3 separate regions of the Homo sapiens genome follow, and all the other regions are linked to region 2. The links come from fine-mapping of genetic effects on gene expression. A gene starts in region 2. Each other region holds a variant in brackets. All regions are shown on one strand. Distances are from middle to middle.

The links. PIP is the estimated chance that this variant, and not a neighbour inherited with it, causes the effect. A credible set is the group of variants that fine-mapping cannot tell apart.
Region 1: its variant is the best candidate, but not a certain one, in a credible set for the expression of PSD3 in thyroid (GTEx, PIP 0.67).
Region 3: its variant is the best candidate, but not a certain one, in a credible set for the expression of PSD3 in atrial appendage (GTEx, PIP 0.69).

The regions. Positions count from the first base shown.
Region 1 is chr8:19,049,194-19,059,998 of GRCh38, forward strand. It overlaps a transcript of PSD3 not described here. Among named protein-coding and RNA genes, the nearest start is that of PSD3, 41 kb to the left of the region's middle. The variant T/C (reference allele first, on the strand shown) is at 5,127.
Region 2 is chr8:19,008,675-19,019,479 of GRCh38, forward strand. It overlaps PSD3 (pleckstrin and Sec7 domain containing 3), which reads right to left and starts at 5,029. Exons shown (of 16, transcript NM_015310.4): 1 at 4,889-5,029. The coding sequence starts at 4,909. LOC124901898 (a long non-coding RNA gene) reads left to right here and starts at 5,329. Exons shown (of 2, transcript XR_007060840.1): 1 at 5,329-5,522. RefSeq lists silencers at 4,913-5,012, 5,083-5,172.
Region 3 is chr8:18,815,497-18,826,301 of GRCh38, forward strand. The region is part of intron 4 of PSD3 (pleckstrin and Sec7 domain containing 3); the gene reads right to left. Among named protein-coding and RNA genes, the nearest start is that of PSD3-AS1, 100 kb to the left of the region's middle. The variant A/G (reference allele first, on the strand shown) is at 6,108.

The DNA of each region.
Region 1 (10,805 bases), 41 kb after region 2:
CGCGAATTTTGAGGAGGACACAAGTCATCCCATAATAGGCTCCAAAAGGAGGTGATATCTTGCAAGGTGGAGCGGAGAGACTATCTCCCATCGTCGTAGTCCTACACACAAGGAAGAGGTCAGAAATCCCTTAAATCTAAGCCATATGTTTGAATGAGCTCCCTGTGCTTCTAAGACCTTCATGTGCCTTTACAATCTATGAGAAAGGATGATGTGCCAGGCACAGTGGCCCACACCTGCAATCTCAGTGCTCTGGGAGGCCACGGCAGGAGAAATGCTTGAGGCCAGAAGTTCAGGACCAGCCCAGACAACATAGCAAGACCCTACCTCTGCAAAATTTTTAAAAAATTAGCCAGACATAGTGGTGCAAACCTGTAGTCCAAGCTACTTGGGAGGCCAAGGCAGGAGGATCACTTGAGCCCAGGAGTTTGAGGCTGCTGTGAGCCACGATTGCTCCACTGCAGTCTAACCTGGGTGACAGACTAAGACCCTGTCTCAAAAAAAAAAAAAAAAAAAAAAAAAAGACAATAGTGAAGATGTCTCTATTTTCTCCTCTAATGAAAAGGTAAAAACATAGGTTATTTTCTCTCCTCGGCCTCCTGAGCCTGCATTGATTAGTGAGACACAGAGCAGCATGGCAAATTCGAGTCTGAAGCCAGATTCCCTGACTGGAATCCCATCCCTGCCACTTACAGTGTAACCTGTTAACTGACAAACCCATTAATAAAAACCAATCATGACAAGGGAAGGAATGGAGCAATTAAAATTCCTAGTTCCAACCACTTTTCAACAGAAAGTTGAAAGTCTCAAATAAGCCAGGGCTTTGAAAACATAACACTTTTGTTCAAACATGCCAATCAACTCGTGATGGAGACTGCATTAATTCTTAGATCAAGAGCTCATTACTTATAATGTAGGTCAAGGAGGCCATGTCAGCTCTGCTAAGTTAGTCTTTGAGGACTGCAATTTGCAAATTAGAAAAAAGAAAGTGTTCTAATTAAAATGACTCTGTCATTTCTGGGCCTTGGAAGTGTGCCAGAATGTCCTTTCTGAGCAGAAAAAGAACTAGCCACAAAAATGCAGTGGGCTTCACAATCTACGCCCATGCCCATATCCCCGCCTGTCAAGGATATAATGGCTAAGAGGCTTAGAAAATACAGAAAAATCATGCTGCTATAAAGACACATGCACACGTATGTTTATTGCAGCACTATTCACAATAACAAAGACTTGGAACCAACCCAAATGCCCAACAATGATAGACTGGATTAAGAAAATGTGGCACATATACACCATGGAATACTATGCAGCCATAAAAAATGATGAGTTCACATCCTTTGTAGGGACATGGATGAAATTGGAAATCATCATTCTCAGTAAACTATCGCAAGAACAAAAAACCAAACACCGCATATTCTCACTCATAGGTGGGAAGTGAACAATGAGAACACATGGACACAGGAAGGGGAACATCACACTCTGGGGACTGTTGTGGGGTGGTGGGAAGGGGGAGGGATAGCATTAGGAGATATACCTAATGCTAATTGACGAGTTAATGGGTGCAGCACACCAGCATGGCACATGTATACATATGTAACTAACCTGCACATTGTGCATATGTACCCTAAATCTTAAAGTATAAAAAAAAATACAGAAAAAGATAAGGAATTAAACAAGTGGGCTGAAAACCTCCCGTGAGCCAGGAGCTAGTCACTCACATTCTCTCCCAACTGTCATGGTGTCCTGAGGCAGAAACAGAGCCTCAGAAAGGAAAGAGAGTTTGCTTAAGATCTGTAGGCTCATAGGATTTGATGTTAAGACATATGACTCCAGATTCCAATTCTAGTGCTCTTCCAACATCCTCAGAGTCTATCCAAACCTCTCCACACTGCAGCTAGGGTGCACATCTGATCATGTCTCACCTCTGCATAAAGACCTTCAGCATCTCCATGGCTCTTAGAATAAACACACAGCTTCTTAAGCTGGTCCAAGAGACCCTCCTCCCTCTGGTCCCAATCGGGGGATGCTCATTCCTTCCCATCTTTGCCTCGATAACCAGCGCTCGTCCTTCAGTTCTCAGTTTCAGTTCCATTATCCAGGTCCTAAGAAGGCTTTCCTGCTTTCTGGGATCAGACTACACTCTCTGTTACATACTCTCATATGACTCAGTGTTGCCCCTTTTTAGCTTATACTTATTCGTGTTATCAAAACTTGTCATCTTTAGTTATCTATAAACTCCATGAATGCAGTTTCTTAGGGTGTCTCCATCACCCCACATAGTGCTGGCACATACTAGGCACTCAATAAATATTTTCTGAATGGGTGAATGTTTTAATGAGTGTGTTTGCATGAATTTTCTTCCTTTCTATTCTTTCTGCTCCTGGAGTGTGGAAATTGGCTCTGAGGCAGCAGAGGAAATAAAAATCCCCAATCAGAATAATTGCTCCTTCCAGTAACTACCTGCAGAACGATTTGTCATTGTGTCATGCTGATTTATAACAAAGTTGGGGGATTAGCATGTTACCATCTTCCCCTACTAGACTGCTGGCAGGGGTTACATTTGGTTCATCATTGTATCCACCGTACCTAGCATAGTACAAGAGCTCACACATCTGTTTCAGGGAGAAAAACACAAAGAACTAATGAAAAATTACAGTCTACAGGAGTAAGATCTCTTAGCTCAGGCGTGAAGAAATTCAGAGCACAGGTAGATTAATTAACTCCAGGAAGGAATAGGAAAATATCTTCCACTGATACTACAAGAAAAAGAGAGGACAGATGTAGAAATAAAATTAGATCAAAGTGATGGAGAATGAGGAAGGGGGCATTTGTGCCAGGGTCCACAATTTGCCCAATTTCAGGCTTTCCATGGCAAGGTCTGCAGGGAGGAGCAAGATTGGATGGAAGCAAAGGTGGAGGCTGGAAGAGAGCAAGGATGGTCCAGAAAAGCCACTGTGGTGAGAAAGTCAGAAAGTTCATTAAAGAAATACAGAAAAGTGGCCGGGCACGGTGGCTCACGCCTGTAATCCCAGCACTTTGGGAGGCCGGGGTGGGCGGATCCCAAGGTCAGGAGATTGAGATCATTCTGACTAACACAGTGAAACCTCATCTCTACTAAAAATACAAACATTAGCCAGGTGTGGTGACATGCGCCTGTAGTCCCAGCTACTCAGGAGGCTGAGGCAGGAGAATCACTTGAACCCAGGAGGCAGAGGTTGCAGTGAGCCGAGATCGCACCACTGCACTCCAGCCTGGTGACAGAGCGAGACTCTGTCTCAAAAAAAAAAAAAAAGAAAAAGAAAAAGAAAAGAAATACAGAAAATGAGCAAAGCAAAGTGTCAAGAGCTGAGAATTGGTTTAGTCTGGAAACTGTTTCTTGTAGTTTCTCTAGCTGTGCTTTATTACCTAAACTCAGATCTTGAGGAATGGGGTGGAGGCTTCATTGTTAATTCAGCTAATTCGGAAGTCCAAGTTGGGAAAGGAGTTCGGTAATATCAGAATGGGTCAGATTGTCTACACAAAGGGGGAAGGAGTCTAGTTGCTGCCAATCTTGGTGACGGCTGAAGGTCAGGACTTGAGCCCCCTAAGCTGTGGGTGGGTGGGTCCATTGGGTGCCCCCAAGACTTGAAAATCAGGCACACTGGGGAGGGACAGGTGCTTGGGTGCAGCTTTGAATGTGAGTAGGTAGAGGAAGTCCAGCCAAGCTGCCCAGGCTTACTTGTAGAGGGCCTGCTTGTGTCACTTCCTACTGACAATGACAAATTCCCCACCTCGAGCCTTCACACTGTGGAAGGTCAGGCAGGAGATGAGCAGCCTGGAGCCAGGGCTTTGGCCACACAGGTAAATTTAGGGAAATTCCCTAGGAGGGTGAGTGGCTAGGAGGTTGTAGTCTTGGAGTGACAAGGTGACTTACTGGGCAGGCTTTCACCACAGTGGTTCACTATAAATTCAATCAGACAGAAATCCCAAGTGTTAAAGTCATCTTAGGAAGGTGAAAGTGGGTCTATGGCGCACAGGGGATGACTGGAGTAACGTCTTAAAGGCAGGTGGTGGGAACAAATGGGGATGTGTGGTGGCTCTGGAACAAGTGCTGAGGACAGAATCATCCCTCCGCACTGCGTCCCCTGCCCCCTGCTGCACACACCCACTCCTCTCTTCTTGAAAGAGAAAAAGAATAAAATGAAATCTCACAGGAGAGAATGCTGGGACAGAGTGATTTAGAGAAAGCTTCATTTCTTATCAAATGAGGAGATGAAGTAAGGAAACAAAGAGACTTAAGATGAACTTGGAAAAACATCTGAAGCCTAATCAAGAGGGAACACAGGCCGGGTGTGGTGGCTCACACCTGTAATCCCAGCACTTTTGGAGGCCAAGGCAGCCGGATCACTTGAGGCCAGGAGTTCGAGACCAACATGAGGAAACCCCGTCTCTACTAAAAATACAAAAATTAGCTAGGTGGGTGGTGGTGGGCGCCTGTAGTCCCAGCTACTCAGGAGGCTGAGGCAGGAGAATTGCAGTGAGACTTCGTCTCAAGAAAAAAAAAAAAGTGACATGCTAATGGTATCTTAAACTTTATCACTAGATCTGTGAGGGAAGGATTTTTTTCTGTTTTGTTCACTGCAGTATTCTGTATACCTAGAAAAGTGCCCGGAAGAGAAGGCACTCAATAATTATTTGTACAAATGAATGAATGAAATTTTGATTTTTGTTCACCTAAGGAAGGTTGCAGTCTTGGAGTTACAAGACTGCTTACTTGGTTGGCTTTCACCTTAGTGGTTAGTTAAGCCAAAAGAGGACTCCTTGAGCTTACTTCTTCCTGTCCTTTAAGTGTCTTCTCCTCTGACTGTAAGTTGTACTGGTACTTGGGCCTGATGTACAGCACTGCTAGACCAGGTCCCTGAAACTCCCCTTCATGGGATCCTCTAGGGCCTTTCTCCTGCCGCGGGCTTGTTGCCATCCAGTGCTTTGGAAGCTACATGTTGAATTGATGGAGTCATGTAAGTGAGGGAGGCTAGCCCCTGAATTGCTGATTGAAAACATCCTCCCACAGCTCAGAAACACACATTTTGGACTGTACAGGAATTTAAAGGAAACTGCCATTCTGTTAAGCCCTTGAGATTCAGGAG[T/C]TTATCTGTGAGAGTATCCCGTGTTACCCAAACTAATGCAGGGACAATGGCTACCTGGTTTATGATCATCTTTTTGGTGCCTGGAAGAACTTGTAGCATATGTCAGAGACTGAATAATGTTTGTTGAGGGAAAGAAAAAAGAAAGGAAAGGAGGAAGGGAAGGAGAAAATGATATTCCCAGAGCTCTATAATCATCTTGTCATGGATTCAACTTATTTACTTATTTTTACCATCTCCATTTTCTTCCCCACATCTGCCGTAATTTTTTATATGCTGAAAATGCAGTAAAGAATCTACCTTTGGATATCTGCCAGATTTATTCCAAGGAATTCATATTTTTGGTAAACTTCATATTAATAATACCTGTGAGGTAAAACTATTTTGTAAAACTGAGATTAAAGAAACTATTCTCAAAACAGAATCATAATAACAAATTTATCGCTTGATAACATCTGATAGCACAAACAATATTAAATCCTGATAGACCTGAAATTCTAGGCTTGGAGAACCTTTAAACTAAGTCAATTAGAAAATTAGAATATCATATACATTATACACTATAGACATATATGTTATTATTTATTACCAGCAGAAAGAAAATTTGTGATAGAAACTTCTAGTGCTCACCTGGGCACAGGGAAGACTACCTGTTCACCCCTGTACAGGTAGACAAAGCACTGTGACTTCTCCTAGACAATGTGAGATGCATTTGTCACTTCTGGGCCAAGGCAGTGAAAAGCTCTGATTCCTCTACTTGATCTCTCTTCTCTTTACTTGAGTTGCATGAGCAAGAAATAAGCCTTTGTTGCATTAATCCACTGAGAGCCAGATGTTGCTATGTTGCCATAGAATAGTCTTGCCTAGCTTAATTTAGGATGGTTACCCAAGAGGCAGTTCATACAAAACTAATGACATGTTTACGTCCTAGATGATTTATAGACTCTTTTTTTTTGGACAGAGTTTTGCTCTTTTTGCCCAGGCTGGAGTGCAATGGCAGAGTCTCGGCTCACTGCAGTCTCCACCTCCCAGGTTCAAGTGATTGTCCTGCCTCAGCCTCCCACGTAGCTGGGGTTACAGGCGCCCGCCACGACGCTCAGCTAATTGTGTATTTTTAGTAGAGATGGCATTTCACCAGGTTAGCCAGGCTGGTCTCGAACTCCTGACCTCAGGTGATTCACCCGCCTCGGCCTCCCAAAGTGCTGGGATTACAGGCGTGAGCCACCGTGCCCGGCCGATTTGTAGACTTTTTTTTCACTGGTCTGCATCATTAATCCTTGGGAGAAAGGACTAAGCTATGGTTTTTAAGGTCAAGATACCAAGAATAGGCAAAAGGTTTAGAAAGGGTAAGTATAGTTGGTGTTCATGATACAGACTGTTGACAAAGCAAAGTTACACAATTAAGACAAGTGCACTGAAATGTCAAACCTCACTGAATTCACACCTCCTGCTGTGACCTGTGGCGACAGAGATTTCATCTTGGCAGTGATTCCTTTTCCTGTATTCAGATTACATTAAACTTGATTGGAAAGCTGTTCACCAAAGGTAGACACAGAAATCAATGCAATTCAACACTCAGCCTTGCTGATGCATATGTCAGGAGAACACACTACTTTCCCAGGTTATCTGTTCTCTTATTAAAAATGCTGCTACACACCTCCTTAAAGACACATTCTGCTGTAACATAACTCTATTATCTTGAAAAATCTTTATGTCAGTCTGACTTCTTTTCTTCTCCTTAGTGTTAAATACTCTGCCCCTTGTTGCTATTCTTTGACTTTTAATCTCATTGAAATGCGATCACTTGCAGTAACGTCTTCGTGGGATAACTTCCTTTTCTTTGATCGTTTTCAAATACAGGCAGACAAAATATATTATTTCAATGTAGAATCTATAACTTAAAAAATAGTCCACAAAAGAAACCTGTCATGGCCTCCAGGCAGTTAATGGTTGCAGCTTTGCAAATAAAACTGACCCTCCTATAACATAATTGATCGAGCCAGTCAGAAACTGGGTCTGAATATGTGGATTTAATTTAAAAAAATTTCTTGGAACTGTTCCTTTCAGTAGAAGAGAAGTCAGAGTTTTGACACGTTGTACAATTATAAAGAAAAAAGAAGGCTCCTGATGGAAAGCATGGACAAATTCCATGTACACAATCTAATTAGCATGAAAAATGCATGGGCAAATGAAGATATGTCTAAGTTGAAATCATATTAGCAAAGCAGTTGCTATCATTTCCAAATTTCAACAGGCAGCAAACATTCCATTAAGGCTCCAAACTACATATTATGTCTGTGCACATTTTCCATTATCAGTTTGGCTCCTTCATCAACTATTCCAAACTCTGTCGCTGGTTTTCTAGGTTCCACATTGGGAAGCTAAGTGAACCCTGATTACATGTCTGGTGCAAATATATCCAAATATCCCTTGCTGACCCCTTCCTTAGTGGCAGGAATTCAAAATAAGTGAACAAAGACAAAAGTAAAAAGAAATAGAGATAAAAAGAATACAATAAAGGGATTCACTGTGTAAGAATTCACAAGAGGTTAGGTAGAAGCTTGTTCTGCTCTAAAAATTCCCTCTAATCTCCCAAGCTGTGGGTGATGAGCTCAGCTTACACTTTTATTAAGAAAATAGAAGCTGTCTGATAAGGGTATGAACTTTCATCTTGCTATCACCAAACCTATACGCCGGTTTGCCTCTAGCTAGCTTTTGATGAGCTCTTGATGCTACTTCATCTCTTTCCTTCTTAAAACTGGTTCCCCTTGGTTAACCCCTCAATCCTGCATCAACAGCACATACTCCCTGTACTGCTCTCACTGGCATATGAACATGTTTGACTATCTCTTTATGCATTCTTCCACCCGCTGCCTCATTTCTCTACTCTTGTTCATAATCAAATTTGAACAAGAAATTTCTCTACTCTTGTTCATAACCACTCTCGTTCACTCCAAGAGTGGTATACACATACTGCTCTTCAGCCTACTAGAATTTGGTTTCACCCCCATCTTTCCATGGAAGTTTCTCTTGACCTCTTGTCAAGGTCTCCACATGGCCTCATCTCAGCAGCATGAAACACAATTAACCCTTCAGTTTTCTATGACACGAAAACCTCTGCCCACCACTCTGGTCACGCCTTCTGTGTTCTTTGCAAGATCCAGGACTTACATTCAATGATCTCTACTAGTTTGGCTATACCAGTTGTTAAATATTGAAATATTTCATACTGGTTGTAAATAGTTACCATCCTTAGCCACCTTACCCCACCTCTCCTCCTATCTTGGCCCCTTCTCTGGGACCCTGCTAAACATTTGCTTCATCTAGCAACTAAAGAGTTATGCCCCCAAAGAAGAGGGCCTCCAAGACCCCAAATAGGTTATAAGGACACCTATTAGTGAAATAAATTCCAAAACCATGATGAGATACCACTACACATTTATTAGAATGGCAAAAAAGAAAAAGAAAATATCAAATACTGGCAAGGATGTGGAGAAACTAGCTCTCGCATACATTGCTGGTGGGCGTGCAAAATGACAGGGCCACTCTAGAAAACAGTTTGGCAGCTTTTTATAAAAGTTAAACATACGCTCATCATATGACCCAGCTATCCCACTCCTATTTTCCCTAGAGAACTGAGAACTTCTATTCACACAAAAACCTCTACAGGACCACTTACAGCCCCTCTATTCATAATCACCAAAACTTGAAAACAACTAACATGTCTTTCAAAGGATGAATGAGTAAACAAACTAAGGGTCACCTGTAAGTGGAATATTCAGTAGCAGAAAGGAACAAACTGTTGATACATGAAATAACTTGGTTGAATCTCAAAATCATTGAGATTTGCTGAGTGAAAGAAACAAGTCTCAGTGGGTTACGTACTTTGTGGTTTCGTTTGTTTTGATATTCTTGAAAGCACTAAACTACAGCGATGAGGAACAGATCAATGGTTTCCAGGGATTATGGGTGGGGAGAAAGTATAAGTATAAAGGGATAGCATTAATGAGTTGTTTTGGGTGATATAACAGTTCTGTTTCCTGATTTTGGTGATAGTTGTACAAATTTATATAAATATATTTATAATATAATCTATAATGTAAAATTATATGATATATTACATTGTAATATATAATATATAATAGCATATACAATATAAGTATATAAAATTTATATATAATTTATATACATTTATATTATATGTGTGTTAAAATTCATAGAACTGTACATACACACACACAGACACAAGTCAATTTTACTGTATGATAATTTTTTTAAAAAAGTGTTGTCTACCCTACCAGCTAGGCCCAACTTAAATTCTACCTGTATCTCTTCCTTTTCCCTAAATTGGGTGATTAAGCACATTGTACAAAAGTTTCTTGAAGTTTGGAGATGTTTCTGGAAATTAGAGAACAGTGCCAGCTCCTTATCTAGCTATTTTTGATGGTTAGTGGCTCATCAGTACCGAGGCCTGTAGGGTGAGAGGGAGCCATCACGTGGAGCACCTTGGAAAGAGGAAGTGAGGATGTTGTCATTGTTCTCCATGGCTTTGGAAATCAAGGCAAATATTCAGCTGGTTTCTGTGACCCAGGTGAGGTTAATTGAAGGATGGGCACCCATAGCTGGCCCTCGCGTTCACTCTTCAAAGCAGAGCTACCCAACCTGAAGAGATATAGCATATATGGCTGGCAAGAGCCACAGGAAAGATTGACTGTCCCCCAGTGATCTTTTGGGCTGGTTAGCTGTATTGAGGCTGAACGCTGCCCATGGAAATTCCTTATGCCATCCACACAGAAATCTCCACTTTAGCAGAGACATGAAAAGCAGAATCACCAGAATCTAAGTCATCGGAAAGTCTCTCATCCAAATAACACCCAGTTGTGGGTGAGTCTGCTTCACAGTGCCAGGAATCAAACCAGGAAATGGTGCCACAACAGGGGCCAGCAGAGGAGGGACCACACCCAAGCTTCTCAATTCCTTAGACCCCCTTTACCTGCGTAGGAAGATGTCCCTCTAGCCTCCATCTCTGTTGCTACTTCTGCGGATGATGGAACTCAAAGGAAAAAAAGGAGAGCTCATGAGAAGCACAAGGAAAGCAGGGTACACCAAGCTCTGAAACACACTATTTCCAGCAGCACCAGTAGCAGCTGGTGCAGAACAAGAAACTAGCCCCAGCAATCTAAACTTTTAGAAAAGTCTAAGATTTAAGCCAGTATCAGGTGGGACCAAAGTACTTTATTGGGTAACATCAGATCCCTCCTTCTCCTACCCCTGTGCCTAGACAGGGAGATTATGAGAACAAAAGTTTGCTATCAGTTAGTCAAGAAATTTAAAAAATTTCTACGTCTGTAAAGCACTGAGTTGAGACCTTTAATCATTCCCACAAGAAAAAGAAGAAAGGTTAGAAAATAAATTGTAAAGATAAAGGAGACAGGAAATAAACAATTCACAGAAAGTTCATGGCCTTTCTCTTGGATCATTTGCTTTTTTCCCAACCTGCCAGGGTGCCCTTCAGCTCTATCTGCCCAGCCTCCTCTCCAGGGCACCTACCAGGCTCTGTCTTCTATAACCACTGGAACTTCTGGCTTTGCTCTGTGCAGAGAGCTGCATCCCCAGCAATGGGGCAGGACTTGGAAATCAATGGATGAGCAAGCCTGCACGGGCTGCTGTCAAATCTGGGCT
Region 2 (10,805 bases):
GCTTCTATTAAAATTTTCTACTTCTCTTGTCCACAGACCAAACAGGCATAAGAAAACCAAGCTGCTCGATTTCTATAATTCACTTTTTCTTAGCAAAGGTCTGAGAACAGAAGGCCAGGGAAACAGGGAGCAGCTGCCGCCTGGTCTTATGAATGCCCTCGGCTCATTCCCCATCCTCCTCCTCATTGTTTCAAGCTCCTTTTCTTAACAATCTCTAAGCCCCAGCTCATGGGAAGAAATAACAAGGAAAAGCAGCCTTCACTGTGTCAACACCCTCTGTGGTTGAAGCATCTAGATCACTTCTCTGAGGTGATGCAATTAGAAATTAAATTAGAAATTAAAAAGAAATTAAAATACATTCCATTTTAATTTGTTAATCTGCTTTATTGTGAATTCCAATTAATGACACATAACTACGTGGAACTCCTTACATGTGGTCCTACAGAGATCCTTTTAGACACCCCAGGGGTTTTGTTGTTGTTGTTTAATTACACCATTTCTATCTCTTGAGCCAAACAACAAATCTGGTCCCACTATTAAGCCAACAAATGTATAATGGTCGGTGATGAATTAGTCATCCAATATTCAGATTCCAAGACTCGAATAATCTAAATATTAGAGCCAAAGAGCTCAGTTTCTGCAACACGCAATGCTAACTTTGAGACATAAAAACAGAATGGTGGTTAAGAAAATTGGATGACCTGAGTTTAAAGTCTCAGCTCTGCCACTTACTCACTGTGGGATCTTGAGCAGGTTCCTTAACCTCTCCTGACTTCAGAATGGAAATAATGACACTACTGACCTCATGGGTTGTCATGGGGAATAAGGGAGACAACCCAAGTAAGAACTCAATAAACATTAGCTGTGATTGTAAAAACGCCCCATGCCAGGAAAATATCACTCGAAATAAGCGTTTTCCAAAAGTTAGGACTTGGCCGGGCCTGGTGGCTCATGCCTGTAATTCCAGCACTTTGGGAGGCCAAGGAAGGCAGATCACCTGAGCTCAGGAGTTTGAGACCAGCCTGGGCAACACGATGAAACCCCGTCTATACTAAAAATACAAAAATTAAGCTGGGCGCAGTGGCGTGTACCTGTGGTCCCAGCCACTCGGGAGGCTGAGACAGGAGAATTGCTTGAGTCTGAGAGGCAGGGGTTGCAGTGAGCTGAGATCGCACCATTGCACTCCAGCCTGGGTGACAGAGTGAGATCTTGTGTCAACAACAACAACAGAAAAATCAGGACTTAACAAGAAACTTAGAAAATGCTGCTTTCTCAGAAGACCCGTGTGAAAATACCATGTAAGAAAAGAACACCAGCTTAGGTCAAAATGTTAATTTTCCCAGTTATCCTAAATCCCTAACTCCAATAATAATCTTTTAAAAATATCCTTCAACATGTATAAATTATTCTGATTCATCTCACTGATGTACACTCAGAGGAAAGGGAATTTCAAACCAGATGGCTCAGGAGTGAGTGGTCCTCAAGTAAGCCTCAAGGAGTGAGTGGTCTGCCATGGCCGCAGCCTGACATGCAGGAAGGGGAGAAGAGCGGGCGGATCCCTCACACCACCGGTGTCACCAAGAGAGAAAATGCTCTGCCACCTCTGTGCCCTGATGTGTCAACAAAGTCCCTCCCCACTAGGCACCAACTGGGCCCAAGTTTGTTGACCTTCTGGGCGCAGTGAAAAACCTTTCTTTTGGTAGAGCAAACAAGCACTGCAGGGACATGCACTGTTTTTATATAAATAAGATAGCACACGCAAAGATTCATTATTAATGTTGAGTTATGCCTTATTTTCAAATGAGGCATGGACATTTGGTAATTTGGATTTAAGAATAACTTGTTAACTATATGCTGCAAATTATCCTTTTTCTCCATTGTAAATTGCAACAGCCACTACAACACTACTTAATTTGGAGCTTGTGAAAAATGTCCTTGAAAGATGGTCAACGTAACTCAGAAACACTCTTTGAAAAAATAATGCCACCACTTAAATTCTTTCCAGCAAATCCCTGAGTCTGCATACAATATCACAAACAACACAAGCTGTCAAGATATGGGCACTCCGAACAAATGCTCTGGAGAATTTCACATGGATCCTGTACTCTCCTAAATGAAAGCCAGGCTGGTTTAACTGTAAAAGAACTAGGAAGAACTGAGAGGCAATATTCAAAGTGAAAACACTTCCACTCTTAGCAAAGGGAAGCCAAGGACCTCTGTGCTTGGCCCAGACGGTCCGGGAAGAACCCCTAAATGGTGAGAATCACAACAGCAGTAATTCAAGGTCACACTAGATCCCCAGCCTCCTATAAGCCTGATTCACATACTAAACTCCACAGACTTTGGTCACCAGATTATTTTTTACAGTCTGACCCAACTTCAATCATGTCTGAATTCCTTTCCAAAAATTGGAAACGATCACTATCCATAACTCACCTCCCAATCCAACCCAAACCCAAAGACACTCTTTTCATAATGTCCAAATGACATTACCCCATGTAAACCTCAAACAAACCAGTCTTTAAGCCAAAGCAGATACACATTTTAATATTCACATGGTTTTGCCTCAGCATCTCTTAACCAAGACTGCAATTAACCTATCACCACACTGGTGTCTTAGTTTATGAATAATGCATGACAAATCACACCTGAATTTCTATAAAAGAAAAAAAATCACCTCCAAAAGTAGTAGTACCATGGACATGTTTTTTCAATGTAATGCCACGCTAAATTCCACTCAAATAATTTTCCATCAGGGCTGGCAAACAAATATGTAAATATCAAGGTTTTAGAAAGAGGGCAGAGCCATTGACTGAAAGTACCTTTAAATTTTTCTTTTTCAATGAGCTACTTCCATCTTACTTTATTTTTTTATTTCCAAATTCCCAAGATTTACTAGCCTGTAAGAATTTCCAAGGTTACTCAATTTTTTAAATTACTAGTATCTGATTAAAAGCAGAATTGAATTGCTTAAGTGCAATGTACATAATAAGGTATATGTTATTCTTTGGTCACAAATGAACAGTGTCAACAAAACTTTCTTTAAAGAAAACACACATTAAGATTGGCAAATCAAGCTTCTTATGCTCGCATTTAAAAAAAAAAAAACAACAACAACATTCAACCACGGAATTTGGCCGTAATAAGGTTATTTTAGCTTTGTAGCTCTAATCACTCTCCCACATTCAATGGTCAGGATAAGAGTGCTGATCCATTCACAGAACACACAAACAGATATTTAGAATGTGAAATTAAGAGTACATCACTGAATAAGTAATGCATAAAACGTGTCTAGGCATGGAAATATCAAATGGTAGGGCTAGAAGGCTCTGAAAGAGCATCTACCTAATCCCCTCACCCTACCAGGAAACTGTAGCGACAGAAGTTAAATAATTTGCCCAAGACGGTGGCAAAAACTCACCCAGTCAGTGGCAAAGCCTCTAAGCTAGGTGTCCTACCTACAGATCCAAGTCCCTTTCTTGATACCACTCTACTCCTTTTAGTACAAAAAGCTTCTATTAATGAAATATCTTACAAGACAAATCACTTGTGGATGGATATAAAAAGGTTGTGGAAGGACATCCAGCCAGCCACTAAAAACTGGTTGAAAAGGTGCTAATTTATTTTGCATTTGCTTAACTGGTGATGTTGAGCATGTTGCACTTTTAACTGCTGAAGAGGAATTTCATGACTTTTTGAAAAGAAAACCTCTTGGTTTGTAAATACTCTCAGAAAAGAAAGGATCATTTCTTGGAAAAGGGTAGAAAGTGAATTCCCTTTCCTTTAGCAGGGGACATCCTTTCCCTCACATCTCACAAAAATCCAATCAACCCCTCCCTTTCAAGGTCCAGCATAACTGCCAGCTCCTCTCTGAGAACTTCCAAGCCCGGAGGCCAGAAGCTTCCTCTGAGATCCTCCATGGTAGCCTACGCATAAGTCTCTCCCAGGCAAGCTCTCAAGCACGCTTCTTGAAAGCAGAAATCCTATCCTACTTACCTAGCTACCGGGCTTTGCAAAATCCTTTGCACATACTCAATTACAACGAACGCATTGAGGCATTTGTTGCCAGAATCCCACTTACAGTAATTTTCCAGATCTCCGTCTTCCCTACACCAACACCTGGACCCACTCAAGAGTTATTCTGGAGCGGAAATCCTGGATCCCGCTATCGGGAGAACCAGTGTCTAGAAAATGAAATCGTGGTGCCCATTCCATCCTCTGCCTAGTGGGCGTTTAACATCCTTTGACATCGAGGGGAATGGCAAAACGAAACATTTATTATTTAGGTCACCAACAACATTCTAAACCCACGTCCTCTAATCGGTGTTAATGTGTTTAAAAAAAAAATTCAGAACATCATTCGCCAGAACGGAAAGCTGAAAACGGCGGATAAAGTTAAATGCATGTAAAACAGAATGACTTAAACATCTGTAAAAGCTCCTGGGAATTGCACCGAATAATCTTCCCTTGTCCGTTTGCTCGCTCAATTCAAGTTTGTTTAGTTTAGTCTTTTTTTCTTTCTTTCTGACAGAAACGTGATAGTCCCTAAATACAAGCTGACCGGGCAAAGAAAGATCGGCATACGAGGTCCTCTTTCATGTTGCCTTCTTTTGATAGCTTTTCTCCAAAGTCTGAGGTTTTCAAAGCCGAGGTATGAACTAAAACCCCTAAACCTTAACACCACAAAGTTGACCCTGCTGGGCTCCTAAAAAACACAAAGCAAGCAAGCGCGAAGAGAAAAATCGCACCCTGCACCTATCCAGACAGCACAAACCCAGGTGGCCCCGGGATCCTGGGGGACAGAGCGGCGACAAAGCAACACAAACCCCACGTCGAACAGCGGCGCCGCGTGCGCACCCCGCGCCCGCGCCCCGGCCCCGGAGCTCACCGCTGCGCTCCTTCCTTCCATCTTCCATCGCCAGCCCGGCCGCGCGCCGAAACCGCCGCCGGGCGCTCCGGGGCCGCAGCCTCAGGGCGCGAGTGCCGGCGGCCAGCGCCGCGTGCTCTTTGTTGAGCTCCCGGGACTGCCGAGAGGCGGCGGCCCGCGCGCACCCTGGCGGAGGCTGGCGAGGCTGCGAGCCCGCGGCAGCCGCCCGCCCGGCCCCCAGTAACGTCAAAGCGAAGGCGGCGCAGGCGGGCCGGCGGTGGCGGGCCCCGGGGGCGGAGGGCGGAGGGCGGAGAGGCGGGGCCGACGCCTCGGGGAGGGGGGAGGTGGCTGGGCCTCCGAGGCGGGGGCGGGGTCTCCAGGGCAGGGGCGGGGCCTCCGGGGGAGGCTGGAGGCGATCCAGACCCTCGCAGTGCAGCCCTCGAGCGGCCCGGACCGTCCGCTGCCTCCCGCAGCCGCGCGCCCGCCCTGGGCCCAGCCTCCAGCCCGCGAGCGAAAACCTGCCTGTTGCTTTGTCTTCTTCCTTCACAGTTTTCCCACCCTGAGAAAAGTGAGAGGTGCTTTCCCTGGTGTTTCCTCTCAGGAAGGGCCGTGTGACTGGAGCCGCGAGTTGGGCGCCGTCTCGCCGGGGCTGGAGGTACGCGGGCTTCGGGACACGCACCTAGGCGTCCCTCGGGGTCCCGGCCTCTCTGACCGGGCTCCCCCGGCACCGATCCGCGGCCGGAGCGTTTAGTCCCGGGGACCCGTCGAGCCCTGAAAGGGCCATTTCCCCCTGAGGCGAGTCCCCCCAGGCGCCCCGCAGCCTGGCCTCGGGACTGCCCCCACCGACAGTGCGTGCGCGGGGAGAGGTCACTTAAAACTGCATTTTCGAACATTAGTGCCCCGGACCCGCACCTTTTTTCCTCCGTCCTTTGATCTGTGCCGCAGAGGCAAGGGCTGGAACGGCGCCCTCCCCTGGTAGAGGGACGGAGAGACCGCAAATCTTTCCCCCTGGGAGGTCCGTTAAGTAGATCCAAGCACCTGGAGGCGGAACCTGTGTGGCCGGCTACAGGGTGGTCCTGTGTATGTGTTACCGCCTTATTGTTCCAAAGAACAGTCTTTTTCAAGTGACAGGTAGAAGACGCCCCAATAACGAGAAGTGACTGACTTGGCCAAGCTTAGAGATGGGAGTGGAGTCAGGTTCCCTGGTGGCCCCACGATCTCGCCCACCATGTCAGCATGGGCTGCCCGGTGAGCATAGCTGAGATGCACCAAGGCCACATAAGTCACCTACTTTGCCTTGGCTGCCCCATCTGCATCTATCAAAGGAAGCCTTGGACACCCACCAGAGGAGCCAGCATGAGGGAGTGTATGCCTTTATACAAATTCACTCCAACTTCAGAAAAACGTCCGCAGCTCATGCTCCCCCTGCCAGAGCAGCAGTGTGAGCAGCTGTGTAGGTTTGGAAGCACCCCAGTCACTTGGGCATTGATATGGTTTGGCTGTATCCCCACCCAAATCTCATCTTGAATTGTAAGTCCCGCAGTTCCCAGGTGTGTGGGAGGAACCTTGTGGGAGGTGATTGAATTATGGGGGCGGGTCTTTCCTGGGCTGTTCTCGTCATAGTGAATGAGTCTCACGAGATCTGAAGATTTTAAAAATGGGAGCGCTTGTTGCACAAGCTCTCTCTTGGCCTACTGCCATCCGCTTAAGATGTGACATGCTCCTCCTTGCTTTACGCCATGATTGTGAGGCCTCCCAACCATGTGGAACTGCAAGTCCAATAAACCTCTTTCATTTGTAAACTGCCCAGTCTCCGGTGTGTCTTTATCAGCAGTGTGAAAATGGACGAATACAGGCATATTTCTCGTTTGTGATCTCCCTTTACCCTTGCGTACATACCCTACAGAGACAGTCCCAGTGTGCCTATTCCCAGTCAACTCCTGCCTTCCTTGACGGTTTTGTTGGCAAAGCATCAAAAGTAAGACCCAGTACAAAATGTAGTTGCTACCCTGAGGCTTGACCACTGGCCTACTGGCCTTTACCTGGGAAATTAACCAACTCATAAACAAACAAAAAAAAGTAATCATATAGGAGGCAGGGTGGACATAGATTTACTTGATATTTCTAGTTAAGGGACTTGGGCATAGACATCTATAATCTGAGCCTCTGTTTCCTCATTTATAAAATTGGGTTAATAATGCCATACAGAAGTGTTATTAGCATGATAAATTAAGGAAAGCTCCTGGCCTATAGTGAATGTTCAATAGAGGAGCATTTCATAAGTGAAGCCACAGAAATGTGTTTCCAATTTCCATCGCAAAGGAAATTTTTAATTGGTTTTATCCCTGAAGCCAAAATATTTTAAGATTGTACTTATAAAGCTGATCACATCTATTAAATAATCATTCATTCGTCCAGTTATAAATAATCAAAGATAAAATGGTTAGAGGTTCTGATCAGCATAAATTAGCCAGTGTTACCACTACTAAGTCAATGAAGCCTAAAGCAAATCAAATAAACATTGACATTTCATTTTTGCCAGCATGTATTTTGTGTGTAAATATTTTGTTAGGCTTTTGGAAATATTAAAAATGAAGTAAGAATCCCCATTTCTGCTACCATAGCCCCCAGTGCTCAAGTTCAGTGTCAGAATACACAAGCACCCGCCTTGGTAAAAAAAGAAAGGAGGCACGCAGACCACCTAGGCATGGGCTAGTGTATATTTATCCAATAACATATTCCTCCCCCACCTCTTCCCATGAGCCCTAATGTATGTGGTGTGGAGAGACTATATAGTAGGCAAGACATTATATACTGCAGGTCAAAAGAAGAAAAGGAAGATGAAATTCCATCATGTATTATTCATGCATACAGTTAATCCTTCCTATTTCTGAAGGTCACTGAAAAGCCCAGATTATTGAATATTTATTTTTTAGTACAACATGAACGTTTATTTAGAATGACAAAAATCTCAAATACAAATTTCTAAGAGTTGACAAATCCCACAAACATTACCAAATCCAGAAAAATCACACAATAGTTTTATCTACCACCTACATAATATTTTGTAGTAATAAACTTCCTAAAACACTTCAGTAATATTTGTCTTCACCTGTTTTCTGCTGCTATAAGAGAATACCACAGACTAGGTAATTAATAAAGAAAAGAAATGAATCTCTCACAGTTCTGGAGGCTGGAAGTCCAAGAGCACAGCAACAGCACATGGTGAGGGTGGTTCCATGGTGGAAAGCATCACATAGCAAGCAAGCACAAGAGACGGGAAGCAAATGGGGTCCAAACTTATCCTTTTGTCAGAAGCCCATTCTCTAGATAACTGACTCACTCTCTTAATAACAGCATTCATGAGAGCAGAGCCCTTATGACCCAATCACCTCTTAAAGGCCCCACCTCTTAGTCCTATTACAATGGCAATTAAATTTCAACATGAATGTTGGCAGGGACATTCAAGCCATAGCAATACTTTTTCCTCAAGTATTTTGGCTACATACTTTTTTTTTTTTTTTTTTTTGAGACAGTATCTCACTCCATTGACCAGGCTGGAGTACAGTGGTGCAATCACAGCTCACTGCAGCCTCTACCTCCCAGACTCAAGTAATCCTCCCACCTCAGCCACCCAAGTATCTGGGACTACAGGCACACACCACCAGACCCAGCTAACTTTACATTTATTTAAGATGGGGTCTCCCTATATGGCTAGGCTAGTGTCCAACTCCTGGCCTCAAACAGTCCTTCTGCCTCAGCCTCCCAAAGTGTTGGGATTACAGGCATGAGTGACCGTGCCCAGCCTGGCTACATACTCTTGATAATCTCATTGGAAAGATTTTTTTAAAACAGCTTTATCAAGATCCAATTCACATACCACACAACTCACCCATTTAAAGAGTACAAATCAATGTGTTTACTATATTCACAGATTTGTGCAATCATCACCACAGTCAACTCTGGAAACTTTTCATCATCCCCTAAAGAAACCCTATCCCCATTGGCGGTCGCTCCTCTTTTCCCTCCAAACCCCTCAGTCCCTGGCAAACACTAATTTACTTTCTGTTTCTACAGATTTGCCTATTCTGGACATTTCATATAAATGGAATCATAAAATATGTGGTCTTTGTGACTGGCTTCTTGCACTTATCATAATGTTTTCAATGCTCATCCATATTGTAGCATATATCAGAACTTCATTTTTTATTGCTAAATAATATTCCATTGTGTGGATAGGCCACATTTTATTGATCCATTTATGAGTTCATGGACATTTCAGTTGTTTCTACTTTTTGGCTGTTAGGAATAACACTACTATAAAAATTTATGTACAAGTTTTCATGTAGCTGTTATGTTTCCATTTCTCTTTTCCATTCTACCTAGAGTAGAAATTGTGGGTTATATCGTGACTGTATAACTTTATTTCCAATCTGTTTTCCACAGTGGCCGCACCACTCTACATTCCTACCAGAGCAATGTATGAAGGTTCTAATTTCTCCACATCCTCACCCACACTCATTATTGTTTTTGTGTTTGATTACAGCCATCTTAGTGGGTGTGAAGTGGTAGATTGATTGTGTGACATTTTCTATGGGTTGAATAGATAGCCCAGTCTTTTCTCTAGCATGGTTGATCACAATTTTATTATTGACAATTTAGGAAAATCCCACCCTCGCATTTATTACTGATAATAACATTTACACTTTTAATATGTTTTCAAATTTTGGAAGACCTCTCAAGTTTCTTTCATATATAACTGTAGGATTTCAAGGCATTTCATTTTTTATGCAATGATTAATATTAAATGCTCTTTTTAAAAAAAAAAAATGAGGCATAAGGGATCTTCCTAAGGTGATGCAGGTGTTCTATTTGGGTGATGTTACATTTGTCAAAACTCATAGAATTTTACACTTAAAAGCTGTGCATTGCTCGTATATAAATTTTACTTCAATAAAAGAAAAAACATATAATTTTGAATCAAGAGAAATGTTCCAATAGTCAATTCATTGTTTTAGACTGAAAGCTTAAGAGATATGTAGATGTGTGTGTACATGAAAGCACGCATGCGCTAATAAATCTGAAGCTGAGAACATCTTGCAAAAGGTAGAGGTGGAGAGCCACTTGGAATTTGTTTGGGCATTAAAGATAGAGGTGTTGATCCAAAACCAGAGAAAATACTTTTTCTTGAATCAAGTGTGTCTGAACATCAAAAATTTGACTACCCAAGTCTATCCTCATGAGAGTCAGAAGATAAGTTTCTTTTCTGTTTTGAGACAGAGTCTTGCTCTGTCGCCCAGTCTGGAGTGCAGTGGCTCAATCTCAGCTCACTGCAGCCTCCGCCTCCCGTGTTCAAGCAGTTCTTCTGCCTCAGCCTCCTGAGTAGCTGGGACTACAGGCGCACACAGCCACACCAGGCTAATTTTGATATTTTCAGTAGAGATGGTGTTTCACCATGTTGGACAGGATAGTCTTGATCTCCTGACCTTATGATCTGCCCACCTCGGTCTCCCAAAAGGCTGGGATTACAAGCGTGAGCCACTGCGCCCAGCCAGAAGATAAGTTTCTTATTCCTGGTGAAAGCTTAGGTAATTTACTTAGCTCTGGAAATAAATGCCAAGCAAAAAAAACAGAGATGGAAGGAATCATGAAAACAGATGAGTTCCCCAGGCTTCAGGTTAATGCTTTAAACTTAAAACTCATCAACTCATTTTTTTTTATCTCTATTATGAGTTTTGCCATTTCACAGATGTGAGTCATTGCACGTCAAAAAAGAAAAAAACTAAGTATTTTTCCATTGTGATCTATGGCTCACTCCTCTTTATTATCAATTCTCAAGCAATCCAAGAGTCTTAAAATATGCATTTAAAGGAAAGGGTTTTTATTTTAAATACATAAGCAACTCTAACCTCTACAGTATTTTCAATAAGCGGGCTGC
Region 3 (10,805 bases), 190 kb before region 2:
GATGGGGTTTCACCATGTTGGCCAGGCTGGTCTCGAACTCCTGGCCTCAAGTGATCTCTCCACCTCGGCCTCCCAAAGTGCTGGGATTATGAGAGGGAGCCACTGCGTCCAGCCCCTTTCTTCAAATTCTTACGACACCTTTTCCAGTGTCCTATAGCACAGGCGTTGCTGTGTTTCTCTTTGGCGTGTTTGGAACTGCGTATCTGTTCTGCAGTGTCCCTCTCCTGCTGACACACCCACTGACGACATGGCCGTACGGTCTCACCTTGCACATAACTTCACTTTCTCTTTATGCACGCTACAGGCAGTTTCTACAGCAGCAGCCTGACAACATATCCTCTCTACACTGAGTTTCCCCTAAGTGCTACCTACTACAACTACACTGAAAGCTGCTCTATGCGATATAGGGAAGGTTTCTTGGATTCACTTAATTTTGTGTGCAATGTTAAAAAAGAGGAAAGAATTAGTACCCTGGCAAGAATACAAGGAGTAAGACCCTCCCCTTAGGAAATAAAATCCTATCTCTGTCACTTCCTGCTTTCATCTCTTTAAAATATTCCAGCTCCCCTGGAGACAGATCCAAAGGGTCATCTTCATCTGGGGCTATGGGATTAACAGGGGACGTTTCCACTCTTTAGTACCCAATATGAATGAATTAGTAATAATATCAATAAATATTTTGTCTTAACATATTTTTATGAAGAATTCCAGAATGTTTACTCTGTTTAATACACTATTTTAAGCACTTTATACTAACTCACTTAATGCCCTTGACCTTACGATAGGTACTTCCATCATTCCCATTTTACAAAAAAGGAAACTGAGGTATGGTGCAGTTAAATAACTTTGCCATGACCATTCTGCCAGCAGGAGGTAAAGCTGGGATTGGGGCTCAGCAATGGCGGCTGCAGTTGTGCATTCAGCCTCTTAACTAATAAGCTATGTGGCTTTCTAACCGATATTACTACAGGTTATACTGCACGCATAACTTTGGTGTATATAGGAACAAACATTTCTACTTTTTAAAGGACATCTGTATATGTGTTTACTATGGTTGCATAATTAAGTATACACAACCAAACCTGCACAAATTTTCACTCCAATTATTTATTTAAACATTGACTATGTGCCAGCACATTTCTAAGTGCTAGGGGTGCAGCCTTGCCCTTGTGGACTTTTACCTTCTAATAAGAGAGAGAAACAATAAAATACATGAAGAGTTTTCCCTCTGTTCCTGCCTTTCACCCTCCCACAAATATCTGAACATGTTACGACTCACACACTGTTCCAGGTAAATATTAGGTCTAATAAAGCATCAACAGATGAAAGTCCTTGCTTTCAAGGAGTTTACACTCAGACAGTGACATTCATAAGTGCCTTGGAGATAAATATAGCTAGGTATGCAAGAGGAGAGGGAGGGGTTGCTATTTTATTCACAGCACTCAGAAAGTACCATGTGAGTAGAAAATAGAAGGAACTGAGGATGTGGCTTTGCAAGCTATCTTCAGATCATTTCAAACAAATGCAGGCCTGGGCAAGATGGCGTTTGGTAAGTTTTAAGTGATGGCCCAGAGGAGCCTCCATGGCTGGAGAGGAGTGAGCAAGGGGAAGAGGAGTTAAAGAGTCCCAAGGAAGGCCTGAATTCACTTACAATTTCAAAGTAGTCAATCACTTGGAAGCTTCAAAATTAACTGCCGATTCTCCAACTTCCACAATCGGAGAAGGTACAACAATTTACAAAAGGTTATTAGTATCATATATGTACTTTAGACACATGTTAGCTTCCAAAGTTCGTGGGCTGTTTCGCAGTTCCCCCTGTAATTCTGCAGTACCTCTCCATGACCATCACATCATCTAAGGGTCCAGACTCTTATCAATCACCTAATTCACCCTGTAGGTCATGGATTCAGAGCATACTCTCCCCAGCACTGTGCCCCGAGGGCTAGTCTGTGATTTTTCTAAGGCTGAATCCTTATCTTAATGAAATTTCTAACACAGCACCTTGGATAATGGCTGGGCTTTAACATACGCTCAGTACAACTGTCCTAAATCAAATTGCAAGAAGCTTAAAGGAAAAGTCAAACAACTGTGTACTCGTCTCAATGCAGCTATCAACTTGAGTAGAAGATGCCCAAAAGCAGTAATTCAAATGTTTTCTTTCATGAATCTGTATACAAAGCTGAAAGTTTCTGAGTTTTATTGTAAGCAATTTCCTTATTACGGAATCTAGAGACTCTGATCAGCGGAAATCATCTGCCAATGAGCTCTCTCTATGTTGCAGATCTTTTAATGCTTATCCCTTATTGTTGCCAAATGGGGAGCAACGTGAAAAAGTGGCAAAAGCAAAGTGGACAGAATGCAGCGGTGAAGAGGGGAAGGTCTTCAGCTCTTAATATCTAACCTAAGAAAACTAAAACCATGATTACTAAATAGATTATATGCATTACGTTTTTTGTTTTTGGTTTTGGTTTTTTTGAGACGGAGTCTCACTCTGTCGCCCAGGCTGGAGTGCAGTGGCGCGATCTCGGCTCACTGCAACCTCTGCCTCCCCGGTTCAAGCGATTCTCCCACCTCAGCCTCCCTAGCAGCTGGGACTACAGGCACCTGCCACTACGCTTGGCTAATTTTTTTCATTTTTAGTAGAGAAGGGGTTTTGCCATGTTGGCCAGGCTGGTCTCAAACTCCTGACCTCTGGTGATCCATCCGCCTCGGCCTCCCAAAGTGCTTGGATTACAGACGTGAGCCACCGTGTCCAGCCTACGTTACCTTTATGAAAGACAACTATTGTTGTCAGTTTCTACGCTTTTAAACTAGTTTTTCCTTCCCTTCATTTATTATATTTTAAAGTAGGGAGCTACTTTTTTTTTTTAGGGAGCTATACATGATCTTACTTTGCCCTTTGATTTCACACTAGCGCCTCCTAGAACCAAACTACCTGTAAGGCGAGGAGGGTGAGCGCTGTGTTCTTTAATGTGAATTAGATGTTATCTGCCATCTAACTCAATCTCAAAGTGTTTGGTATTTTAAGACTGAAATCATGGCATTTTGGAGGTAAAAAGAGGTTAGTGACATAAGCTGGAACAGATTCAGTTATTGGGCACAAGACAGGACAATCTGCTCTGCAAATAAACTGAGAATTAAAGAGACCCAGTAGACAACAAATTTAGTGAATAATGTCCTCTCCATACCCCCCCCAACAACCAGCAAAAAAAGGAAAGAAAGAATGAAGAGTCTTTAAAATCAGTTGGGAAGAAAAACATTGCATTTTCTGGCTTTCTAAAATGTGACAAGGCCTTTACATTTATAATCTTATATTAGTGACAGTCAGAACCTCCTAACAGATTGTTAGAGTAAATTTAAATAGGAATCCCCTTGGACTGATAAATGGGGGCAGGTGGGTTGGGGGGAAAAGTCATCCCTGCCAGGGCTCACAGGTAAACAAGCAGAATTCAGGGCATGTCTGCCTGTTACATCAGAGACCCTTGATGTGATCCAGAGGAATTGTGGAGTAATCTGGACAAGCACCTACCTCTAGGCCACAAGGACTTAAGAAAGTGAACTGGAGAACTTCCCGGCAAGACTACCTAACGACTGTTCATATCAAAACAACTGGTACCCAGAGACAGAACTCCTGACTCCAAATCCAACACTTTTTGTCCACTGCACCATTGTATACAGCAGAGATGACAAGGTAAACAGCTGTTGACAAAGCCAGGCTTTCCAGAGGGTAGGTTTAGTCAACAAATACTTTGACAAGTATTTTTCAAGGAAACTAAAAAAGACAGAGTCTAAAGGAGAGGATAAAGTAACAGGCAGCACAAACCAGCTTGAATCACCAAAAAGAATCCTTCAGAACCAGATCATGAGCCTTCATGAAGGGAGGGGATGAGGACAGAAGCAGCCAGAGATGCTACTCAATAGAAACAAAAAAAGCCCTCCCCAAACTCTTCCCCTGAACCTCTCCAGAGGGATAAGGCAAAAGTGCTGTTTTTGGCAAAACTATGTAAATACAAATTCATATTTCATTAGTTCCTAGACACATTTTTTAAATATTTCAAATTCTTTAAAATTAGAATGGATTTTTTTTTTTTTTTTTTTTTGAGATGGAGTCTCACTCTGTCGCTCAGGCTGGAGTGCAGTGGCGCAATCTTGGCTCACTGCAACCTCCGCCTCCAGGGTTCATGTGATTCGCCCACCTCAGCCTCCTGAGTAGCTAGGACTGCAGGCGCCCACCACCACGCCCAGCTAATTTTTGTCTGTTTAGTAGAGATGGGGTTTCACCGTGTTGGCCAGGATGATCTTGATCTCCTGACCTCGTGATCTGCCAGCCTCGGCCTCCCAAAGTGCTGGGTTTACAGGCGTGAGCCTCCGCACCCAGCCAGAATGGTTTTCTCATGCATCAACCAGTGTGAACCCTGGCAGCCAGGTGGCTGTCAGACTTTTATTACCTGTGCACAACGCAAAATTATACTGTTGGTTTAATCTTGATTTAATTGATGTTTACAGTGTCTTCAAAAAGATGCTATAAAAGGTACTGAGACAAAAGTATTATTTATGCAGGCAAGCATCGAGAATATGCCAAAGTCATTTGTATGTAAAAATCTGTAAGTTTAAGAATTATTAGAAACTCCAAGAGAAAGCACTGTGTCATAGTTAATTGCTGGCATTTTTTTCCTTTTTTTTTTTTTTTTCTTGATTTTGTATTTAACACCATTTTCTCCAAGTGAAATGGCATATTCTTTTCTGGCAGTAGCAGAAAATATATGAAAATATACTTTTAAATATGTAAAATATAAAATATAATAAATTAAGATACTGACTTATCTCCCAATCAATAGTATCTTAGATTCAAAAAATTTGATGTTGTTTGTTTTCACTAGTACTGTCATCCCTTGGTATCTGTGGGGTACTGGTTCTAGAACACTCCCCTACAAAATACCAAAATCCATGGATGTTCAAGTCCCTGATATAAACTGGCACTCAGTATTTAAATATAACCTATATACACTCTGCTGTATACCTTAAGTCATCTCTAAGCTACTTTTAATACCTAGACAATGTAAATGCTATGTTAATAGTTGTTATACTTTATTGTTTGGGGAATAATGACAAGAAAAAAATACGAACATTCTCAGTAGAGATGCAACCATTTCTTTTTTTTTAAATCTATTTTCCATCTCCAGTTGGTGGAAACTGCCAATGTGGAACCCACAAATACAACAGTCTGCTGTATGCAGTTGCCTTAAAACTCAGTAACATTTAATTCTGGTTTTCTTTTCTCTTTTGAGACAGCATCCTGCTCTATCACCCAGGCTGGAGTGCAGTGGCGGAACTGCAGCCTCAGCCTCCTGGGCACAGGCAATCCTCCCTCTTCAGCCTCCTAACTGGGACCACAGGCGTGAGTCACAATGCTCAGCTAATTTTTAAAATGTTTGTAGACACAGGGGCTCATGATGTTGCCCAAGCTAGTCTCGAACTCCTGGACTTAAGTAATTCTCCTACCCCAGCCTCCCCAAATGCTGAGATTATAAAAGGCATGGAGTCACTGCACCCAGCCTAACGTTTAATGTTTAAAAACAAGATTTTATTCTGTTTATTTTCATTTATAGGTCATGACATTCAAACAATGACGGCATAAAAATTCCTTCTGCTTTGGGCAAAACAAGGTATTTTGAAATTCTTTTTTTTTTTTGACATTTAATTCTAAAGTTTTATGGCCAATTCCTCAAACAAGACCATTCAAAAAGCTACAGAAATTCTCTCTATTCAACGCCTTTTAAAATGCTATTTTTCAGTGTAGCTAAATGAGAATGATATTTTGTAAGCACTGCTATTATTAGAGACTAAGAATACATTTGAGATTATTATTAGAATTTTACTTTTTCATTTTCCAAAAAAAATAATACCAGGTTCCAAAAAGCTGCACCTTGAGATTATAGGTAACTATTCCTCATGAAAAAAAATTACAGGTTGGATGAAATTTGCGTGAATTAGTTAAGACCAGTATTTATAATCAAGGCCTAACAAAATTACAAGCTCTTGAGTTTTTCCTAACAAAACTGAATAATATTGTTTCTCATTTGTGACCAGTTTCTATGGAAATGAAC[A/G]ATATTCCAGCTAATTCAAACACTGCTGCAGATAATATTAAATAGCAATGTCATTTTAATTCCAAAATTTTGACCCCCACAACACACACACACACACACACACACACACACACACCCCAATAACAAAGCTCCAATTCCAGGTGGCTCTTAAACTTCTATACCCATGGCTTCAAATAATAATTTTGATTTTAAGTCATAATTTAGCCTCTCACTTCAAGTGTTTTGAGAAGGGAATACCCACACACACATGCACACACATGCACACACACCACACACACACACACACACACACACACACAAATGGTTGCTTAGAGGACAACCTCCATCCTAAGAAAAAATAAGACTGGCAAGTAATCGAGTTCTTTAACTTCTAAGCCCCCGACTGCAGAGTCACAATGCACCTTAGTACCCTTAGCAAAGACAATAAAGACGTAAAAGTCCTTCAGAAAAGAAAAAAAATTTTCTTTGTTTCACCACCTTGATAATTTTTTGTTTACTTCCTATTTACTTTCTATCTTTTCTACATGCAACACACTCTTTGTGAAACAGGCATTCCAACTTTTGCTAAGCTATTAGATTTACACAATAAGGTTTTTTTCTACACAGAAACTTTGGTTGAGAAGGGGCCATGGGAAGGTCTTGTACATGATACAAAGAAATATCCTAAGAAGAAGTATGATGCATAGCCCTAAATAAAGTCTGTCCTGTGTCCCATCCAGTTCTCCAAAGGACATCATTCAGGCATCACTTGACAGCAGAACCAACCTGTGTTGTTCCTTTAGTAGTAGTACAGTCCATCCCCGGGAGTGTGTTCCAAGTACCCCTTCACCACCCCCTAAGCTGGACAAACATACTCTTAAGAGCAATACTCCACCTGGTGCGAGAATAAAGTAGAATCATCCTCAAATTCAACTCTTAAAATGGCAAAAGTCTGTGACCTGGCTGTGATGTCCTGTGTCAAACTGTCCCTCCTACGCCAATATCTCCCTAGCGACAGTCTCTGCCTCCTGACCTAAATGACATAAGCTATCAGTGTGAACCACTAAGCAATTCCCAACTATCTGCCTCAAGAAGCTGCATATCAGAGATGAACTCAGAAAACAGCTTGCACTCATGTTTTATGACTTTCAGAGAACACTGACATTTCAGAATGAAATTCACCACGGAAAAGTCATATGCTGACCTCCCTAGTATATTAACCCCATGTACATCTCATCTTCTCAAATAAAAAAATCCATGTCAGATGACCAGGTTCAGGTATTTTAAAGTTTACAGCACAAGAATATTTGCTTAAATGTGCTTCTCCTAGGTCCTGGCACTACCTCACTCCCATCCAGCACATGTGCTCACTCCAAAAATGGCAAGCCGATCCAATCAATCAGCTCTTGAAGTTTCAATTTAAGCTCCATTCTTTAATATTATTTCTAAAGCATATAATAGATAATATTAATCTGGTTTTATAAAGAAGGAGGAAAAGGGAGAATGGAGAGACAGGAAAAAAAAAAAAAAAACCTTATCACTTCAATAACTAGAAAAGCATACCTGAAGCCAAAATAGACCTGCCAGTCTGGAACTTCCCCTCAGAGGATACACTCCTTTCTTCGGAGTCTGCAGAAAATAAGATGCACTTTGGCACCATTCTTCAAGCTCGCTTTAAAATTTCTCCTTCAACTATAATCAAGTCATCTAGACAGTCTAAGTTTTACATTTTGAATTCCTATCATTGGAACTAGGGCTGATAAAATAAAAACTAAACATCCTTTAAATCAGTTAAAAGATCTTTACCCTAGCCACTCAAAATAAGAACAAAATACAAGTAAAGTGGCAATAATAGCAAAGGCGTGAATTCTCCCCTCCCCTTTATTCACTAGAGGTATGAAAAGTCCTGCCCTATTGATGATCAAACCGCCTTCTGGGTCCTGCCACAAGAGATCCTGAATTCCGCAACTTATCATTGAATTCTGCAATGTCACCAGCTGCAAGTCACCCAAGAGATGACGTTTCTACACCTTGTCACACAGTACTGTCACATGCTAGTCACTCCATAGCAACTAAAATACTTGCAGATGTAACTCTCATTGATACCATTTAAAACTTGCCTAAGTTTTTGGGAAAATGAGGACACCATACCTCCTCTCTCCTTACAATTACACATGGTGCTTTATCTTAAACACACTCACACACACACACACACACACACACACACACACACCCCATTCCATGTTCACAAGTGTTTCCTAATACGCTGACAAGGCGGCCTAGAAAGCACTATAAACTTAGTGGAGAAAAAGTGAGGTCAGGCATGGTAGCTCAAGCCTGTAATCCCTGCACTTTGGGTGGCTGAGGCGGGAGGATTGCTCAAGCCTAGGAGTTCGAGACCAGCCTGGACAACACCGTGAGACCTTGCCTAAATAAAACAAATTTCCAGGCTTATCTGTACATGTCTGTGGTCCTGCCTACTTGGGAGGCTGAGGCGGGAAGAGCACGTGAGCCCAGGACTTTGAGGCTACAATCAGGTATGATCATGCCACTGCACTCTAGCCTGGGTGACAGACATGGCCGTGTCTCTAAGAAAATCAGTAACTTTTTTAAAGTGAGACCCAGGCTATGTCAATTTTCCAAAGACACAAAGATACTTAGATATAAAGTTAGAATTAACCACATGTATCTGTCTTCAGTCCTAGAGTACCTTCCACAGTAAACATTCCACTGCCCTTATATAGTTGAAAGGAAGGCAACATGGTGAAGAGAAAAGAAATGATAAATTTGGAGGCTCAAGCCGACCAAAGTTCAGGTCTCAGCTCTAAATTATGTCACCTTTCTCATCCTTAGTTTCCTCATCTGTAAATACTAAGGATCAGAACACCTGCCTTACAGGGTTACTGTGGGGATTAAACAAAATCAGTAACTCAAAATTAGGTATTAGTCTTAAGATATTTAAGACTTTAATGGTTTCTGCTTCCCAGAATTCTTGATTTTACAAAATAGAAATAGAAAAATTAAATTCTGCGCAATTCCCAGAATAAATTCAGGGGCCATCTATCACTGGCTAAGGCATACACTTTATTATCTATGGTAAATGCTACAAAGAAATGTGTAGTGTTTGGGGGAAGCAGTGAATAAGAACAGAGATCAAGATGGCTTTGTCAACACCTGACTGCGATACAGATAACTAGAAGAGTCAAATTAGATCCCTAGGCAGAGTATCAATAACACACAGTACTTCAGCCAGCGTGCCAGGGCATACACGAGTCCAGCATCATCCTTTTAGTCAAGTATTTGAACAAACAAGAGGACAAGAATTGCCCTCTTTCCATAAGTCCCCCCAAAACAGTATTCTATAAAACCCTAGTGTGCTCTAGGCTCTGAAAAATCAAAGCTATAAAAAAATACACACATACAATGTTTTAACTTTCCAGCATTTCTCAGATTTATTTGACTATGAATCATTTTGTACCTAAACAGAATTTGAAAAACCCTGCCTTTCTGCAATACTACAATATACTAGTGCAGTCCCTGAAACTTATGTGTGTATTAGAACTACATGGGAAATTGTTAGAGGCAACTTTAGGTCCCATCTCAGACCTAAAGTTTGAGAACCCAAAAGTTAGTTATATTTCAAAAGGCATCCTAAGTTCTAAACAAATTTAGAAAACTACTGCACCAGTAGGTTTTTAGAGTTGTCAGTTGTGAAGACCACCAGACTCTCCAAATTCAGTGTCTGTAAGAGTCACCTGGGAAGCTTGTTAAAAACACACATGGCCAGGTACCACCCCCAAGAGTCAGATTCACAGGTTCTGGGGTGCAACCCGGTTTGAGAATCACAAATGGTCTAACTAGGCATTCAGTGTCCACTGGCTATAAGCATCCTCACCGTAACTACCTTGTATTTTATTAGAGGATAAATAATAATTAGGGATATGAGTGTTGAGGGGAAGAGAATCCTATTCACTGGTACAAATTAACTCAGAGGGTTTCAGTATTTTGAATGAAGATGATTTCTTCTTTTTCCAGTCCCAGCTCAAAGGAGAGGATGATTTAAGAAATTATGATTCATACTTTGAACATTACTGTTTTAACTGATCAATATTTTCAATGGACTGAGAACAACCTGTGAAAATCTGATCTCTTCCCTAACCTCCACACGCAACTCATTGCTGGCTTTAAAAGCATTAGCAAAATCAGCACATCCCACAGGGATCTATGTAGTCGATTCACAGTCTCTTCATTTGATCAGAATCAAGTTCTTCCGTATTTCCCCCTACAGCAAAAAGGTCCTGGGATGGTTAATTTTACGTGTCAACTTGACTGGGCCACAGGATATCTAGACACCTGGTTAAACATTGTTTCTGGGTGTGTTTGTGAGGCTGCTTCTAGAAGAGATGAGCGTTTGAGTGGTGGACTGAGTAAAGCGGATGGCCCTCCCCAATGTAGGTGGGTATCATCCAAAGCCCAAAGGCCTAAATGAATAAAAGGGTAGACAAAGTCTGAATTCAATCTCTTCCTGACTGCTAAACTGGGACATTTCTCTTTTCTGCCCTCAGAGCTCCTGGTTCTCAGGCTTTCATACTCAGACTACAATCTAAATTATCAGCTCTCTGTCGCTCAGGCCTTCCAACAACACCAGAGGCTTCCCTGGGTCTCCAGCTCGCAGATGGCCGATCGTGGGACTTCTTGGCCTCCGTAATCACGTGAACC